Linked DNA regions of Homo sapiens: region 1 is linked to region 2. The links come from fine-mapping of genetic effects on gene expression. A gene starts in region 2. The other region holds a variant in brackets. All regions are shown on one strand. Distances are between the middles of the regions. Region 1 has its middle 41 kb from the start of MIR9851. Region 2 holds the start of HSPA12A (heat shock protein family A (Hsp70) member 12A).

Evidence for each region.
Region 1: its variant is fine-mapped to the expression of HSPA12A in spleen (GTEx, PIP above 0.99).

The regions. Positions count from the first base shown.
Region 1 is chr10:116,782,264-116,791,419 of GRCh38, reverse strand. It overlaps a transcript of HSPA12A not described here. Among named protein-coding and RNA genes, the nearest start is that of MIR9851, 41 kb to the left of the region's middle. RefSeq lists a silencer at 6,456-6,622. The variant A/G (reference allele first, on the strand shown) is at 4,188.
Region 2 is chr10:116,738,166-116,747,321 of GRCh38, reverse strand. It overlaps HSPA12A (heat shock protein family A (Hsp70) member 12A), which reads left to right and starts at 4,756. Exons shown (of 12, transcript NM_025015.3): 1 at 4,756-4,892. The coding sequence starts at 4,853. RefSeq lists enhancers at 3,483-4,186, 4,187-4,891 and a silencer at 4,442-4,891.

The sequences.
Region 1 (9,156 bases), 44 kb before region 2:
GTGGATGTGCTGCTCTGGTTTGGAGGAAAGGTATTTTTCCTGAATAATAACCTATTTGCAATTTTTCTCCCAAATGGTTGCATTGAAAAGGTTCTGTCAGATTTTCTTGATAAAGCTTCATCTATGGAAAAGATGCTTTAAACACATCTGACCTCCTTTGGGAGCAGTTGGGAGAAATGGCCTATCTAGGCTCTTCAAGCTTCAGACATCCTTGTGTTAATAGCTTCTCCTTCATCCAAGCAGCACACACTTGTGGAGGGAGGGCCTGCACATTCCAGGCCTGTCCTGGGTGTTGGGGACACAGCACTAGCCAGACAGTCTCCTGCTCCTGTGCAGCTTGTAACTCAGTGAAAGCAGAATATCAAAGGCAAATAAACACGTAGATTTAGAATGCAATCCCAGGGCTATGAATACAAAGATAACTGGACGGGCCAGGTGCAGTGGCTCATGCCTCTAATCCCAGCACATTGGGAGGCCAAGGCGGGCGGATCACTTGAGGTCAGGAGTTCGAGACCAGCATGGCTAACATGGTGAAACCCTGTCTCTACTAAAAATACAAAAATTAGGTGTGTGTGGTGGTGCGCTCCTGTAGTTCCAGCTACTTGGGAGGCTGAGACAGGAGAATCGCTTGAACCTGGGAGGCAAAGGTTGCAGTGAGCCAAGATCATGCCACTGCACTCCAGCCTGGGCGACGGAGTGAGACTCTGTCTCAATAAAAAAATAAAAAATGATAACTAGACAATGAGATGGGGTCTGGGAATGGAGAGTGTCCTTTAAGGCAGGGTGGGCCAGAAGGCTTCTCTAAGGAGGAAATATTTGAGCTGGGCTGTGAATGAAGCCAGGGAAAGAGGCTTGTGAGTAGAGGATCAGTATTCCAGGCAAAGGGAACAGCAAGTGCAAAGGCCCTGGGGCTGGATGTTCGGGGAGCGTCAGGAACAGCAAGGTGGCCAGTGTGCAGCATGAGTGGGCTGAGGGCAGGAAGAGGAGGGAGACGTGAGGTTAGAAAGGTCATCAGGGGGCTGGGCGTGGTGGCTTACACCTGTAATCCCAGCACTTTGGGAGGCTGAGGCAGGCGGATCACGAGGTCAGGAGATAGAGACCATCCTGGCTAACACGGTGAAACCCCGTCTTTACTAAAAATACAAAAAATTAGCCGGGTGAGGTGGCGGGCGCCTGTAGTCCCAGTTACTTGGGAGGCTGAGGCAGGAGAATGGCGTGAACCCCCAGGGCGCGGAGCCTGCAGTGAGCCGAGATCCCGCCACTGCAGTCCGGCCTGGGCGACAGAGCGAGACTCTGTCTCAAAAAAAAAAAAAAAAAAAAAAAAAAAGAAAGATTATCAGGGTCCATACCATGCAGGGATTCCTGGGCCATGGGAGGACCTTGGATTGATTTCCAGTGTGCAGCAAAGCTACTGATGGAGCGTGGGCAGGGTCTGGTGAAGGCTCTCACTGGCTGCTGTGGAGGGAATAGACAGAGGTGGGTGAGGATGACAGTGGGTGTGGAGGTGCAGCCATAAATGGAAGCAAGACCTTAAGAGGGACGTCTGGGCATCCGGTGAACCTGACCCGTAGTCTGGAGAGAGCTTCCAGGGATATGAAGCATGGCCAGAGATAATGCCCTCCTCACCTAGAAGCAGACATTAGGCCCTTCAGAAATGCAAACGGGCACTGAACAGTCACGTCAGCTTCACTCTACGACGTGTTGATAGTCAATATCCTGGATGATGCACCTTAAAAACGAACCCTCAATTCCATGCCTAGGAATTTACTCAGCAGGAATAATCAGACAAGTGCACAGTGACTACATCCAAGGTACCACTGTAGCTTTGTTCCTGGCAGAAAAAGTATAAGCAGCTTGAGTGTTCACCAACAGGGCATTATTCAGCTAAGTCATAGCACATTCAGGATTCAGAATTCTATCATCGAGAGGATAATATTTTTAAAAAATCTTATAAGGGGAGAGAAAGTAAAAGCTACAACTTATACTCATCCTTCATTTCCCAGTCTTATTTCCTAAGAGAGTTTCTGGAGTATCCTTCAAGAAACATTTTCTTCTCAGACACAGGCATATACATATATATCTATATATGTCTATATATCAATACATATATAATGGTATATGTATATAAATATATTTTTGTAAGCTAAAATAGGATACTTCTATACGTATTATTTTGTAATGTAATTTTATTTTGCGATGTGATATATCTTTGACATATTGCAGCACCAGTGCATTAGATTAATAGCTGCATAGTGGCTGGGTGCGGTGGCTCACACCTGTAATCCCAGCACTTTGTGAGGCCAAGGTGGGTGGATCACCTGAAGTCAGGAGTTCGAGAGCAGCCTGGCCAACATGGTGAAACCTTGTCTCCACTAAAAATACAAAAATCAGCTGGGCGTTGTGGCAGGTGCCTATAGACCCAGCTACTAGGAGGCCGAGGCAGGGAGAACTGCTTGAACCCGGGAGGTAGAGGTTGCAGTGAGCTGAGATCTTGCCACTGCACTCCAGCCTGGGTGACAGAGCAAAACTCTGTCTCAAAAAAAAAAAAAAAAATAGCTGCGTAGAATTCTACCAGATGGATATATCATAATTGACTCAGCAAGTTTGCTATTAATAGATAGTTTCTCTCATTTATGTGAGTTTATCTGTGGGTATATTTTCACACGTATAACTTTTTCAATTGAAAATATTAAAAATGATGATGTAGCATGTATTATTGTGCAGATACCCACAATATATAATTAAGAGAAAAAAATCAGGCTACAAAATTGGGTGTGTTGCACAGTCCCATTGCTATCCATTTGCATGTATCTCTGTGTATGTGTTGATAGAGTCTGGAAGGATACTCACCAAAATGCTAGCAAGAGCTACAGATCACAGCCTGGTGACTGTAGGTGTCTCTTTTTCCTAGTGCTTTTCATTATTGTTTTTTTAGAATGAGAATATGTATTTTGCAAGGGGAGAAACAAGCTATTGTATTTTGGGAGAAGAGTTAGTTGGGAACCAGTTTGCGAACTATATTTAAAATATGAATTTTGCGTTTGCATCTGTGCTTTTCTTACTGAGTACTTGTTTTCGCTTCGGTATTAAATGGTACTTTTTTCTTCTCCCGTTTGGAACACTCAAGCGTGGGCCCGCCTATGGACCTGGGCGCAGTTCACCAGCTCCACCACCAGAGGGCGGCGTTTGCAGGATGTTGTGCGCACGGCCGCCTCCCGCCGTTTGCGGGGGTCTAGAATTTTGCAGGATGTGCTTTGGTCGGCTCGGCCAGAGTAGAGACAGGATGTACGCGCGTTGGTTTCCAGTTGGTGCTGTGACACAGATATTTTTCCTTCCTCTGCTTTTAGCGTAGCATCTGAATTTAACGGCGTTGCGTGGAGGTGGCACGAGGGAGGGATTGGCTTGCAGAGCTCCCGCCCTGCCGTCCTGGAAGCCCTCCTATCCCCGACCCTCAGGCCAAGTCACTGTCCCCAACTTCCACCATAGACCAAGCAGACTCCTACCTTCAGAGTCTGACCTGATTCCAGGGGATTTAGGGTGCCCCCACGCTGAAGCCAGTTTGGAGGCTTCACTCGCACCCCTCCATGACCAGGCACTCCACTTCTTAGTCCTTGTGCCAAGCGGCTGCCAGGCACTCTCTTCCCTTCTTTCCTCTTCTTTTCACCTTCTGAAGTTTTTGGAAAAAGCAGTGCATATTAATAATAACAATTCAAACAACACAAAAGGGGGAAGCAAGTGAAAACTAAGCTCCCCGCCTCCCACCCTAGCCCCACTTCTTCCCCAAAGGCCATAATTGTTAAGAGGTTTTGGAAAAGTATATCCTTCCAGAAATTCTAGATGCATATAAAAATACAGACGCCTGTACGTTCAAAACCACACCCTCCACTCAGTTTCTCGTTTGCATTTAGCAATGACGCTGAAAGCCTCCCACATCACTTCACAGAAGGCGCCTGTGGTTTTTTTTTTTTTTTTTTTTTTTGCTGGCTAGAGAGTATTCTAGTATGTGGATGTGACATGCTTGATTTGACATTTGGGCACTTTCCAATCTTGTGCTTATTAGGAGCAGTGGGCAGTAAATATCCTCTATACACAGCTTTAAGCACCAATGCAAGAGCTGCTGTTGACTAAATTATTAAGAGTGGAATTGCTGGTCAGAGGGTAGAGGCCCTTCTAGCTTTGGTATTTCC[A/G]GATTGCTCTGCAAAGGACTTTTAAACCAGGCCGCACTCCCACCCAGAATGCATGAGATCCCATGGACGTTTTTGCCCTTGGTTGATCTGACAGGTTGCTGGTTCTCAATCTTGACTGCAGTCAGAATGACCTGGGGAGCTTTCTAAATATGCCAACACGACAGTATCCCAGACCAATTAAAGCAGAATCTGACCGTGTGTGTGTGAGTGCGTGCGTGTGTGTATGTGTGTGTGTGTGTGTGTGTGTGTCCGGGAGGTGATTGGGCATTGGCACTTAAAACATGTCCCCAGGAGGCTGGGTGCAGTGGCTCCTACCTGTAATCCCAGCACTATGAGAGGCTGACGCAGGTGGATCACCTGAGGTCAGGAGTTCGAGACCAGTCTGGCCAACATGGCAAAACTCTGTCTCTACTAAAAATACAAAAATTAGCTGGACGTGGTGGTGGGCACCTGTAATCCCAGCTACTCAGGAGGCTGAGGCATGAGAATTGCTTGAACCTGGGAGGCAGAGGTTGCAGCGAGCCAAGATTGAGCCACTGCACTTCAGCCTGGGTGACAGAGCCAGACTCTGTCTCAATAAATAAATAAATAAATAATTCCCCAGGAGATTCTAATAGGCAGCTACAGATGAACGCCACTGAGACAGATGAGAAAAATATACCATTTAAATGTACATTTCTTGAATTATAAATGAGAACGAACATTTTTCTGTGAGAACAATGCTTTAGACATTTCTTAGATCATGGATCCCTTTGAGATTCTGACAAAAGCACTAGATCTTTTTTTTCTTTTTTTTTCAGGAAAATGTGCACACACGCACCTGTGCCTCTACCTGAGGGGCCATAGGCCCTGGAGCTGCTCCCTAGACCTCCCTAGAGTCCTGAGCCCAGGCTAGGGGCAAGGCGGAGTTGTTCTGCGCAGCCTGTTTCCCCACCAAATTACCAAAAATATAGTTAAACTTAGGAATTCAGTTTGATCCATAACATAAACAGTCTATTTTAAGAAGTATTTACCACTGTGTCTCAGCCCCTGGGAGCCCTGCCTTCCATGCAACCCCACTGCTGAGATTTGCTGAGAGTCTCTTCTGCAGAACCCGCTCCATCTCCTGCGTAATTACCCGAGAGGCTCCACGTGGGGCTTCTCTGGCGCTAACCTCATAGGTGAACCTCATGAAGCTACAAAGATTCCCAGTGCACAGGTGGGCGTTAGATCAGCAAAGGCCTCATGACGGGTGCAGGAGTCGGGATGTCTCCCAGGGCCACAAAGAGATGTAAGCAGGGGAGGATGCTAGACCACTCAGGCAGAGTCTGAGTAGGCCATGGGGTGGGCCTGCAGTCTAAGGTGAGGGGAGGGGGGGAAATAGGAGGAATCTTGCGGTATTAGGGCAGTGGGGCAGGAGGGCTCAGCGGGGAAAGGCAGAGTCAAGTGGGTGCCTGGCTTCTGGCTGGGATAACCGGTGGATGGCTGAGACCATTCCCTGGGAGGGAGGGGGTGACAGCAGATGCCAGTGCTCAGAGGGCAGGTGGATATTTGGGGTAGTGTGTGTGTGTCTGTCCGAGAGGAAGAGAGAGGGATCATGAACAGCAGCATGCGGTGGGCAGCAGAGCCCGAGTGTGCGTTCCCCCAAGGCTGGGGAGTGAGCTGGGCTTTATGAGTGGGCACCTGCTGACCCCTGCATTGAGGTGGAGGCTTAGAGGGAGAACCAGGGAGGCAGGCGGGGATCTGGGTGGGGGACAGCCGTCCTGGGGCTGGGGTCAGGCAAGAACATTTCTGTCACAATGCCCTGATGCCATGCTCTGCTGGTGGCCAGGACTGCTCTCAGCTCCCACATCTTGATCTCTGTCCCCGGGCTGCCATGTCCACTGGCAGGCCTGGGTCGGGGCCGTTCCTCCTTCCTCCACAGCAGCACTAGGCTGTGGTGGCCAGAACGTTCCCGAACAAGACATCAGTCCTTGCCTGTGTTCCAGAATTCATACTCCTCCTTCCCACTACCTGAGGCTTTGGACATTTGAATGATGGTGGCGGTGGGTGGGAGGGGGAGGAAAGGAATCTGAGAGTGGACATGCAGGGGTCAAGCCCCAAAGCCATCTCAGAGCAGGGCACAATGAGGGTTTCCAGGACGCCCCTCCCAAAGGCTGGGAAATGTCTCCTCTGGAATCCAAGCTCCAGAGCCTCTTGTTGGTCCTCAACTTGTTATTAGGGCCTGAGGTGCTTCATGATGCCAAGAAAAGAGGAACACAGCAGGGCCTAGAACCAGCAGGACTGGGGCCTCTCTGGTTTCTCCTGTTGGCTCCTGCCTAGGAGCAGCTGCCTCCCTGTCTGCTGTTGTAGACACGTGCCCTCAGCATCTCCAGCCCAGACTGACAGCTCCGAGGTTAGCGTTACAGGCTCAACCCCAGACGGAGAGGCTCTGTCTATGTTGATTTCTATTTATCCCATCTAGTCCAAAGATCCCAGGGAAGGGATTCATTGACCCAGCTCAGCCAGGGACTCATTCCTCAGCCAGTCAGCTGGGGCCGGAAGCACAAGTCCCCAACTGCAAGGGCAACACGTGGAGGGAACGGGAAGGAGCAACTCTTGCTAAAGGGACGCTAGGCAGACAACTTCATAAATGTCAATCATAAGCCAATCTTAAAGGCATTCACTCATTCCTGCACTCATCCATTCATTCATTCATTCATTCCCTCAACAAACCTTTATTGAGCACCTACAGAGTCCAGGTACCACTCTAAGTGCTAGGCTTACTGAAATGAACAGGACAGATGAACTTCTTGCTCTAGTGGAGCTTACACGCTAATAGGAAGATAAACCAATAAACGAGAAAGTGACCAGGATGTGAAAAATGCTCTGCAGAACAGAGAAATCAGGCAATGGACTTTGGAAAGTGCTCAAAGACCCTGCGCTGCCACTTGCAGGGCAAGGGGCCACCTAGGTCAGGAGCGGCCTGCCTTGGAGAGACATGCATCACCCCAGCCACTGCCCATTGGCCAGAGCAAGTCACAAGGCCCCAGCCTAGCCACAAGGGAAGCTGGGAAATGTGACTTTTGTGTGTCCAGGAAGAGGAAATGGGATTGGCAAGCACATGGCCAGTCATGGCTGTCCCACTTAGCCATCTGGTTCCCTAAGAGGTCAACACTGCAACCAGGTCCTGATGTGTCCTTCCAGTGAGATCTTTTGGATACATAAGAAAAAAATAGATGTAATTATGTAATTTTAAAAACCATAAATGGGCTGGGCATGGTGGCTCATACCTGTAATCCTAGCACTTTGGGAAGCTGAGGTGGGTGGATCACTGGAGGTCAAGAGTTCAAGACCGTACTGGCCAACATGGTGAAACCCTGTCTCTACTAAAAATACAAAAAAGTAGCTGGGCGTGGTGGCACATGCCTGTAGTCCCAGCTACTCGGGAAGCTGAGGCAGGAGAATCGCTTGAACCTGGGAGGCAGAGGTTGCAGTGAGCCATTGCACTCCAGCCTGGGCAAGAGAGTGAGACTCTGTCTCAAAAAATACCCATAAATGGTGGTATACTAACACACCATTCTGTTCCTTGCTCTTTTTTCCCCCCACTTAAGACTATATCACAGACAACATTGGAGGATTTGGATCTGGGCAAGAATGTGCCCCAGTTTATGTGTTACAAAACTCACCCTGGCTAGCGGGAGAGAGTGGACTGGGGTGGGGACGGTGGGTCAGGACTGTTGCAGCTGCTGCAGTTGACGGCTGTAGCTCTTTGTCCGTGTGCAGCCTGTGCTCCAGCCAAGTCCACCCACACGCTCATTCATTCAGTGCTTGACAGTCAATAATCGTGGGCAGACCCTGGGCCACATGAGTCAGGCTCTGTCCCTCTTCCCACTCACTGTGCCCCGAGCCATACTGCTGCACACTTTGCCAGGGCACAGGCCACCTTCTGCCATCCAGGCTCCTCTGCCACTGACTCCTCCAAATTCTTCCAGACATGTCTCCAACGTCACCTCCTCATCAAAGCCTCTCCTGATCCCCACAGCACCACGTCGATGGTGTGGAAAGAGGGACCTGGACTGGAGGTGTCTCAGCCCCAGCCCTTCCCATTGGCACTTCCTGGAGAAACAGCTTAGTCTTTCAGAGCCTCAGTTTGCCCATCTGTGCGCTGGACGTGATTGGTATCTGTTTAACACATTGCCTGTGTGGATTACGTGGGAAAGGCTGTGGAGAGACCTGGCATCTGAGTGGCAGGAGACATTTGTCATTTCCCTTCTTTCGCCTTGGGGCCCACCATGTTCTCTGCCTCTCTGAGGTTACTTCTAAGGCTTCCAGTACCCTCCGTGAGGGTGACCCTGTGTCCTGGGCTTGGTATGTTGCCAGGCATCAGGCCTGGGAGTCAGTCTCAGTGTCTACTCAGCGATTTTGTTGAAACTGAGAGTCCACCACCCAGCTTAAGACGTAGAACATTGTTGGCACCTGTGAATCTACTTGCACAAGCCTTGGTGATCCTGTCCTCTTCCCTGACCAGGCAGCCCCTACCCTGAATAGCATCTCATTTATTCCCTTGTTTTTAAAAAGCAGTTGATAGCATGTCTATGAGCCCTACCTGAATAGTCTGTTTAGTTTTGCTTGGTTTTTATGACAATAGTGTCACACAGGAGGCATTTTTTTGTGACTTGCTTTTTCTTTTGCTCCACATTACAACTCTAAGCATCATCCTTGTTGCTGGGTGTACCTGTAGTTCATTCCTTTGCAATGTTAGGTAATGTTCCACCCGGGACTATGCCACAATTTATTTATCCATTCTTCAGTCAAAGGACAACTCCCTCTCCCGATTTTGGTTGTTACAAAAAGCGCTGCTATCAGCCTTGTCATATACGCAGGCTTGGGCACAGGCACTAGGCTATGCTAGTGGGGTTGCTGTGTCAAAGCTCACGTATCTTCAGCTTTTCAGAGATTGCCAAATTTCCAAAACAGTCGAATAAGCCTCTTTCTAGCTTTGTGTAAA
Region 2 (9,156 bases):
TTACCTGAGAAGGCATTTCTAAAGTTTACATTGCAGTCCTGAGTGATGGTGATATTTGGAGCAATAATTTCCTCTGGCCCTTGAATTTTTGCCTGAAAGAGTGGCTCAGCAGCTCACATTGTACATGTGAAGGTTGTTTTGGAATGTTAATGGAGAGACCGATTCACACCAGATGGACTGGAAGACCAGTGAGGTGGGGAGGATGTATACACTGGCCACCATGATTCAGCTGTAAGGCTGGCTTTTTAAAATGCACTGACAGTTGGAGGTCAAGGCGGCTGACATTTGCCCAGGTTTTCTCTGCAAGTTTTTATGTTGCTTTAGCAAATCTGAATCTTGGTCCTGTTATGAATTAGTCTCTTTTATGATATTCAGTTCATGGACAACGTTCCGCTGGCATATCCTAAAGTCCAAAGCAGCTTTGACGGGCAGTGTCCTATGTCAAAGTTCAGATATGAACTCATATCAGTGTTTCTTAAGCTTAACAAAAACATAAAAGAAAAATTAAAATGGAAAAAGCTACTCATATCTTCTGTGTGTCTTTATCAGCCAAGAAAATCTTGCCTGGATCCATTCTGTAATTTATAATATACAAGGAAATGGCATTTTTGTGTTCAAATATATAAATTAAATAAGTCATATTAACAGTGGCATATATAGGCTGACTCTAAATGGAATGTTTTACATATATGATCTCTTATAATTATGATACCTATCATTACTGGGCCCTTTTGACAGGTGAGGAAACAGACCCAGAGAGGTATGTCCCAGGTCCCCTGAGGTGGGCAGGGAGCAGCTGAGCCCACTTGAGCCCTGGTCCAGCTGACCCCATGCTCTCTGCTTCCTCCTGTTGTACTTTTCTCATTCTTGGTCCTGATGCATCCCCCAGGGCTCACTGCCCTTAGCATCTGGTCCATCAACAATTATCCTCAGTTTCTTCTGAGCTGGGGGCCAGAGGACTCAGCTGCCTCCCCTACCCATGCTGTGCATCATGTCCAGCCCTTTCCACAGTTGGTAGTTATAGCAGGTGACAGAGTGCCCTGGCTGTCTGGTGCAGTTAGCTGGGCCTGCCTCTGGACTCTGACTTCTATTTGCATGAATGGATGTGGTGGGGGTTTGTTTGGGGGCTGAAGAGCAGAGAGGGAGTCTGTTGGCAGGGAAGCGTGTGTGGGGCTGTGGGTGAACGGGATCCCGGAGAGGATGAGAAAGGCCTGAAGCTGAGGAGGCTGTTTTCCATCAATGTTTTGCTCTCTGCGCCAGGCACCATCCTAGGGTCTGGGGGCTCTAAATGTGGACATGGCTGGTCCCACTTTGGAGAGCTGGCAGCTAGAGGGGGAGGTGGGTGACCTGAAGCTGGAGAGACCTGAGTTCTGGTCTCAGAGGTCTAGTCTCAGCACTGCAGCTTCTGAGCTCAGTGACCTTTCTGTATCTCAGTTTGGTCATCTGTACAATGGGGTTAACAATACTACTGACCTTGGAGTTGTTGTGATAAGTGCTAAGATAGGAGTGATGGGGGGTTGGGCACAGAGGAGAGAGGAGGGGCCTCATGTGATCTTGGAGGGCTAGGTGGTGTCCTGGAGGAAGTGCCATCCAAGCTGAGGCCTGTAGGAAGAGACAGGGTTGGTTACCTGGCAAAACTAGAGGAGAATCGGCTTCCAGTGGAGGCACTGGCTCTTTGGGGACCTGAGGGCAGGCCCTTGAAGCTGGAGTGACCAGCAGGAAGGGAACTAGAAGGTGGTCACTTGGCTCTGGGCTGGGCCACTTTTTAGGACTTGAGTATCCAACCGAGATGTGTAACATTCTCTCCACCAGCTACCACAGTCTACAGCCTGTGGAGGGTGTGGAGGGTGGAGAAGAGATGGTATAGAGGGTGCTGCAGTGTACCCACAGAGAGCACTGTGAGGAGGAGTCTTTGGAGGGGAGCTTGAGGGAACTTGGTACAGAGCAACCTCCCAGGAGTCTGGGCGTGCCCTGAGACAGCTGGGGCTGTGGAAAGGCATGAGCCCTGGGGGTCAGCAGAATGTCTGTGTGCTGGGCTGTGTTCCCGCTTCACTTACTGATTCAGCCAGTCAAGCATCAAGGATTTATTAAGTGCCTGCCATGTACCAGGCGCTGTTCTAGACACAGAGATGCAGAACTGGCAACACAGTCCACGATCTTGCTCTCCTGGGACTTACTTCCCAGTGGGGGCGAGGCAGCAGTTTTAGATAGAGTGTTCTGGGAGGAGCAAGCCACGTGATTGATTCTCTTGAAGGATGTGTCCGGGGGAGTGACCCCCCAGGTGGGGCCTGTGTGTGTTTGGGCTTTGGGGGGAATGGGAGAGTGGAAGGAGCTGAGGTCACTGAGGCATCAGGAGGCCAATTTGTGTAGGACCTGGTAGCAGGAGAATGACATGCTCTCTCTCTGGCTGCTATTGGGGAAGAAGACTCCAGGGAGGAAGGTGGGAACCCTTCCTTGATGTGGCGTGCTGAGCCTTGAACCCCAGCCTTGCTGCTGATGGCCAGAGGATGCCTGAACAGGTGCCTCAGCCTTTGAATGCTTCCTTTTCCTCTCCTGCAAAACCGCAAGGGCCACCATGAGAACTAGGTGAGACCACAACAGCCCCTCGCTGGCGGGCTGGATGGTGTGCTCAGCAGGGCGCGTTGTAATTAGTGTGATGAGCATGAAGGCCGTGAGGGCAAATCCCAGGCAGAGTGTGCGCTGCCTTTCATGCTCCCCTGCAAATCAAAAGTGTTCTGCTCTCTGCCCCCAGCACTGGGGCCTGCATGTCACCTCCCATCCTTCTCACGCACCCTCATGTCACTGTGGCTGGGAGTCCCATGAGGGCACGTGGCGCCCAAGGCCCTTCCACAGCAGGAGGCAGATGTGCAGGGGCTACGGGTTTCTGCTGCTTCTGACAGGCTGTCAAGGCCAATGTCCTGATGCCCTGGTCTGATGGGGAGGAACGAGTGCCTTGAGGACACTGAGGAGGGCCCCCCTGGCCAGCATGGGTATGCAGGGGAGCCTTCCTGGAGTTGGGCAGTCCATGATGAGAAGGAGAAGTTCTTAGGTTGCTGGTGGTGGTGAAATGAGAGGACGGGTGATCCAGGCATCAAGCACATTTTCATGTCTTTGAAATACCAGCATAAGAGAAGCAGGGGTGGGTGAGAGGGATTGAAGAATCAGAGCGGCTGTAGCTGGAGCTGGAGTAGGGTGGGGACAGACCAGATCACAAAGCATGGACTGAAGGGGTGAGACAGGAGGGCGGGGGAGCTGTGGGCAGGCTGTCGCAGGCACGTAGGCAGGAAGGGCCCTCGGGGGCCATCAGTGACTTAATGATTTTTACCATGTGCTAGATCCCAAGCTAAGCATGTTACATGCATAGTCTATCTAATCTTCAGTTTTATGAAGTGGGTTCTCCTGTTATACCCATTTCGCAGATGAGAATATTGAGGCTCAGATAGGTTAAATAACTTGACTGTGGTTTCATGCACAGCCAGGAACTGTCCATTTGGGATTTTTAATGCAGGCAGACAGAAGACAAGTTTTGTGTTTTGAACTTGTCACTCTGCCATCACCTTCTGGTCTCCAGGCTCTCGCAGCAGCTCTCTGCCCATTCCGTCATCCATAACGCTCTCGCAGCAGCTCTCTGCCCACTCCGTCATCCAGAACGGGATTGTACGATGAAGCCTCCCCTAGGTGATCTTTGGGAAATGCCACCCATCTCTGGAAGTGAGGGATGCTGGTGGTTACAGCTGGGTGGGAATCCCAGCTCCGCGACTCACCTGCTGGGTGTGATATTGTAACCCTGCCGATCCTCAGCTTCCTTATCTGCAAAATGTTAGTTATGGGGAGGAAAGGAGATAGAGGTAAAGCACCAGGCAGGTAGCACAGTGCCAGGCACCCGGAAACGACCCAGTGACGGTGCTCCTCGGATTCCTATTACTGCCCTCGTTTGCCAAGGCAGGGTGGTGACACCGCGGACCCAGGGGGTGCCTGGCCAGGCCCAAACAGGTGCCAGCGGCGCGTGTGTGTGGAGGAGCTGGGGACAGGGAGTATGAATCATTCACAACTGAAGCCTTGCATTATTAATATCGTTATTCTCAGACTTCTAAGGAGGGCCCAGCTGGATCCCATATATGGAAGGCGCGACTCAGCCTCCGGGGCAAGCACCTCCCTGGGTCCGGAGTTGCCATGGAGTCCCGCAGGCGGCCTGGAGGCGGTGCCCCGGGCTCGGCCCCCGCGCAGGTCCTTGGTCTGCGGCCTGGGTCCTGCCCGCGCCGGGGTCCACCCAGCCCGCCTTTGCGCCGGCCCAGGGCCGCTCCCCTGGGACCCTGGGGGACAGACAGAAGCTGGTGGGGACTGGCGCGGGCGTCCTCGGGAGAGCGCCGGGCGCGCTGGGCTTGCTGAAGGGCTCCAGGCCTGGCCATTCGGTGACTTCCAAAGAGGGGACGCGCCGCGGGGCCCCGAGGGCCTGAAATCCGCTCCCGCAGCGCAGCCCCGGGCGCGCCACTACCCCCGCCGCGGTCGACTGCGGGGCGACCGCTCGGTCCCGAAGCCGGGAGAGGAGAGGCCGGGCCTCGGCGGGCCGCTCTGGGCGGGCGGGGAGCGCAGCTCCGGAGCCAGGCAGTTCCCCGCGCCCGCCTTCCCCGACCTTTCCCGGCCGGCCCGAGCTCGGAGGGGCGGGGCGCCGGGCGGGCCGGGGCGGGGCCCGGGGAGGAGCCGTGGCTGCGGCGGCTGCCGCGTCAGAGCAGCGCTCCCGCTGCCCGGCGGCTCAGACACGGCCCGAGCGCCGCCGCGGACGCGGACAGAGACCCGCACGGGCACGGGCGCTGCGCTGGAGGCTCCCCTCGCGGTCCGGGGCTGCGCGACCATGGCGGACAAGGAGGCCGGCGGCAGCGACGGGCCCCGAGGTGAGCGCAGGCTGCGGGTCCTGCGGCCGCGGCTGGCGGGGCAGGGAGGGAGGAGGCGCGCTTGGCCCAACGCTCCGCACCCCCTCGCGCGCCGTGGAAAAGTGGGGACGCCCGCGCTGCATCCAGTTCTGGCGGGCGGGGCCGGGGTCAGCAGCAGCGGGGCCGGGGGCCGGGGTCCGGTGGACCGGAGACGGCCCGCGGGTCACATGTTCTGCGCCCCGCCAGGGTGCGGACTCCGCGGCGGGGACTGCAGCCCCCGCTGAGGCGCCTGGTTGGTCCCTGCCTCGGGTGGCGCCTCCTGCGGGGCTGGTCGCGCGTGCGGGTGAGGACCGCCCCGCGTGTGCAGCCCCCGCGCGATGGGCTGCGGAGGCCGGCGCTGGCTGGGTAAAGGGCCCGCCGCCGGGTGGCCGGGTGGCCCCAGCGGGTAATTTTCGTGACTCAGCGAGGCAGGAGTGGGAGCCTGGGGGAAATCGGAGATTTGGACCTGTTCCCTCGCCCCATCCCACCCCGGCCGGACGCTCGAGCCAGGAGTGGGGGCTGCAGCTGCGGCCGAAGGGCTTCTCACCCACCTCCCCGCCCATCCCCAGGGACTCACTGGGCTGGGGAAGGGTGAAGCGGCGGGGGTTCGATGGTCCCTTCCTTGCGGGGGGCAGGGGGAGGCACCCAGTGCGGAGGACAGACGCTCGCATTTTGCAGATGTGCTAGGGCCGCTTTCTTTGGGGAGCGTGATTAGGGCTCCGAAGGGTGGGGGAGCCGGAGAGGACGGGGAAGGGGGTTGCGGGAAGAGGACGAGCAGGTTTCGGAGCCCAGGGCTGTAAATCAAGGCTTCTCCCACGGAGGGCCCGGCTGGCCAGGATTCCAGTCTTCCTGTGGGTCCCAAGTGGGGAAAGTTGGGCGCATGGAGGCGCCGCGCGTCCCTGACCTGCAGGGCCTCGGCGAGAGCGGCCGCCGGGGAGAGGAGCGCGGCCCAGGCATCTTTCCCGGGAGCGACAGGCAAGCCGCCTGCGAGGATGATATTAAAATGCCGGGACGCAAGGGAGATTCAGCCACGAAACGAGCGCTTGGCTCTGCGGGGCCCCAAAAGCTGGAGAAACTGAGTCCAGTGGCAGCACAGCCACCATCTGCGCTGGGTTCCCTGTCTTGCTGTCGGGCCTGCGGCCCCCACCCTCTGCTGCACTCCAAGCCGCACCTGCCCCCACCCCAGCCCATTGTTCCTGCGGATCAGGGAGGTGCCTCCCCACGCGGCACTGCAGTGGTGGGGGAGTGCAGGGTGGCGGGTGGGGGATCCTGACAGGGCTCACTCCAGGGAGAGGCAGCGGAGAGCCCAGGCCGTCCCCAAACACACACCCAGTCCCCGCCTGTACTCTTCCTCAGCTGGTGAACGCAGGCAATGGACTGGCAGCTGTCTTTGTCTGAACATCACTCAGCAACTGGATTGACTCTTTTTTTTTTTTTTTTTTTTTTTTTTACTTTTTTCCTTTAAGTCAGAAAATAAAAAAATTTTTAGGACGATAAGTAGGGGCGTTGAATTGCTAAAGCCTGAGAATTACTGAGCCAGTTTCTTGCCTCTCATGCTGGGATAGGGTGGGCGATGATACCAAATACAAGGTTGGGCATAGGATTTGTCAAATCAGAAGTGGGCAGGAATGTGTACCCACTCCCCACACCTTTCCCAACACTGTTTTGTCTTGTAAATCAAATTCAGCACCCCTATCCTAACACACACACACACGCACACACACACACACACACAGACACACACACACACACACACACACACACACACACACACGGTGCTGGGAGAAATCCTGTCCAGGATGGGGACACCCATACCTGGTGTGCCGAGCCACCTGCCACCGCTCTTCTGCGTTTGTTCTGGAGTATTTGTTTCTTCACTTCCAGTCATCTCCAGCTCAAGGTGGCCAGTGAGAATTCCAGGTGCATGGACTTAGGACAGAGACCAACCTGAAGAGCGGGCTGTCCCTGGCAGCTCACTGTGCCTCTGGGCACCTCTCCCTTTATCTGTAAAATGGAGGATGTGAATAGTATTGCATAGGAGCAGAGTTGGCTTGCCCCTGGCCCCTACACTTATTTCTAAGGTTTCCTCATTGCTGGGAAAAGAGCGTGCATTATTTTATTGTTTTAAAGGCTCACAACAAACCTGTTACCAGCATTCTCCCCTTCCTGGGTGGGAAATCCAAACACAGGTTGAGTGACCTATCCAAGGTCACACATCTGGGAAGTGTTGTTTGGGACCCAGGCCATCTGATTCCAGGGCACCAACCTGTGCATACAGCCCTTATGCATGTGTGCAGTGGTTACCACTCTATTAAGGACATAAAAAAATGGTTGTGCTTCCTGGGAAGGATTTCCAGAATGTTTTTGGTACAAAAGGATGGGTGCCACAAATATCACACTGTTGGAATTTGTGAGCAGTGGCAGTCCTGGGTTGGGGAGGGGTTTGCTGGTGGGTAGGTGGTGTTGGGGGGTGGTGTCAGAAAGGCTGGCCATGAAATCTTCTCCAACAAGTGCAGTTGGGGTGGGGTGGGGAGTGGGCAGAGGTGCGTGCCAATGAAACAAGAATGGCAAAATGTGGTAGTTGGGTGATGGGGAGCGGCGGTTCATTACTATTCTGCTTACTTTGTGTATGTTTGCAAATTTTCTTAATAAGATGTTTAAATTACTTAATTTACAAAATCTGAAGGGCCACACTTGAGGGTCTGGGTGTTGGACAGCAAAATTTGAGATGACCTTCAATCCTGCCCCCTCCCGCATGACCTGAGTGGGTTGACACATGGAGCCCTAGAAGGGTGAGATGAATTGGGGGTGGACAGAGTGGTTCGGACAGGGATGGCTCCTATGGTGACCAAGTCAGGGCTAGACATGAAGAGTGGAAACCAAGTCATTTTTTCCAGGGCACGGGCTTGAGGAGAGGGATGGTGGGCAGGCAGTTTTGCCTGGGTTGAGGGTATCTCTCGAGGCCTGGCATTGGGCTTTGGAGATGCCATCCTGGAGGTTCATCTTAATAAAAATAAACATTTTAAACGTTCACTTTTATTGAGGACTTAGTGTGTGCTGAAACCTGGGAATATTGAGTTATCTCATTTAGCCCTGACCACGTTTGTTGTTGAATGAATGACTATGAAGGACGCCCTGTGATCCCCATTTCACAGAGGAAAAAGCTGACAGTCCTAGCAGCGCACAGCTGGAAGGGGGCCTAGGTAAGGACCTAGGCCATGGGATGCAGGCCCCAGGTGGTCAAGCTGAACAGCCTCTCCTGGCATGTGCCTGGCATGTCATAGGCCCTCAGGGACTTGTGTTGAGTAGGCCTGCGGCTAATAGAGAGTGGCTGCCCTACTTCCTTCAGCCACCAAGCTGTAGATGGTAGTGACAGGGCGCTGGTTATAGCCCCCAAAGGAAGTAAGCAAAGGTCAGGGTGATGCTCTGGGCATTGCAGGTTAGGGTTCTGGCTATGGGATCCACTTCCGTGTCAACATCTGCTGCTGCAACTTGTCTGCCGCCTTGGTGGTCCTCCCATGCCTTCTGTGTATGTCCCTACACAGTGTCTTGTGTTTCCCAGAGCCTTGTGATCGCCTTTGGCCCTGGACACATGCAGTCCTCCCTGCTTGGGACATCCTCTCTTTGTTTAGCAAGGTCCTACTCATCCTTCAAAACTCAGTTAAGGTATCACCTCTCAGGAAGCCTTCCTGGGCTCATCCATCGGGATGAGATCTGCCTGTGTGGTCCCAAAGCCTTCGGTACTTAATGGTTGATAATTCCAACTAGTGTTTGTTGAGGCCCTACGATATGCCAGCTTTGTATGCCTGTATCTCATTGACTCCTCCAGCAACCCTGTGAGGCTGGCATTATTATTACCCCATTTTGCTGATAAGGCAATTGAGGGCTTTGAAAAACTTGCTAACTTGCCCAACCAGTGAATGCTGGAGTTGGGATATGAGTCAGCCATGGAGCCTAAAATCTTGTGCTGTTTCTCTCAATGCTCTTTCTTCCGAGAAAGGCGTGGACTATGTCTTTCATTTCCATTTTTTTTTACTAAGGACACTAGTAGGTGTTCAATAAATGTCTTACTTTTTGTTGAGTGTCAGTCAGCAAGACATGAGGGAACACAGCAGAGGGCAATGGCGTCTACATCTTGCCCACTCCGCAGTGGTGCTCCTGGAAATGTGGATGCTCAGGAGTGGGCCAAGCTGGAGGGGAGTCAGGCAGGGCTTGGACAATCTCAGAAGAGAAGCTGCTTTGATTC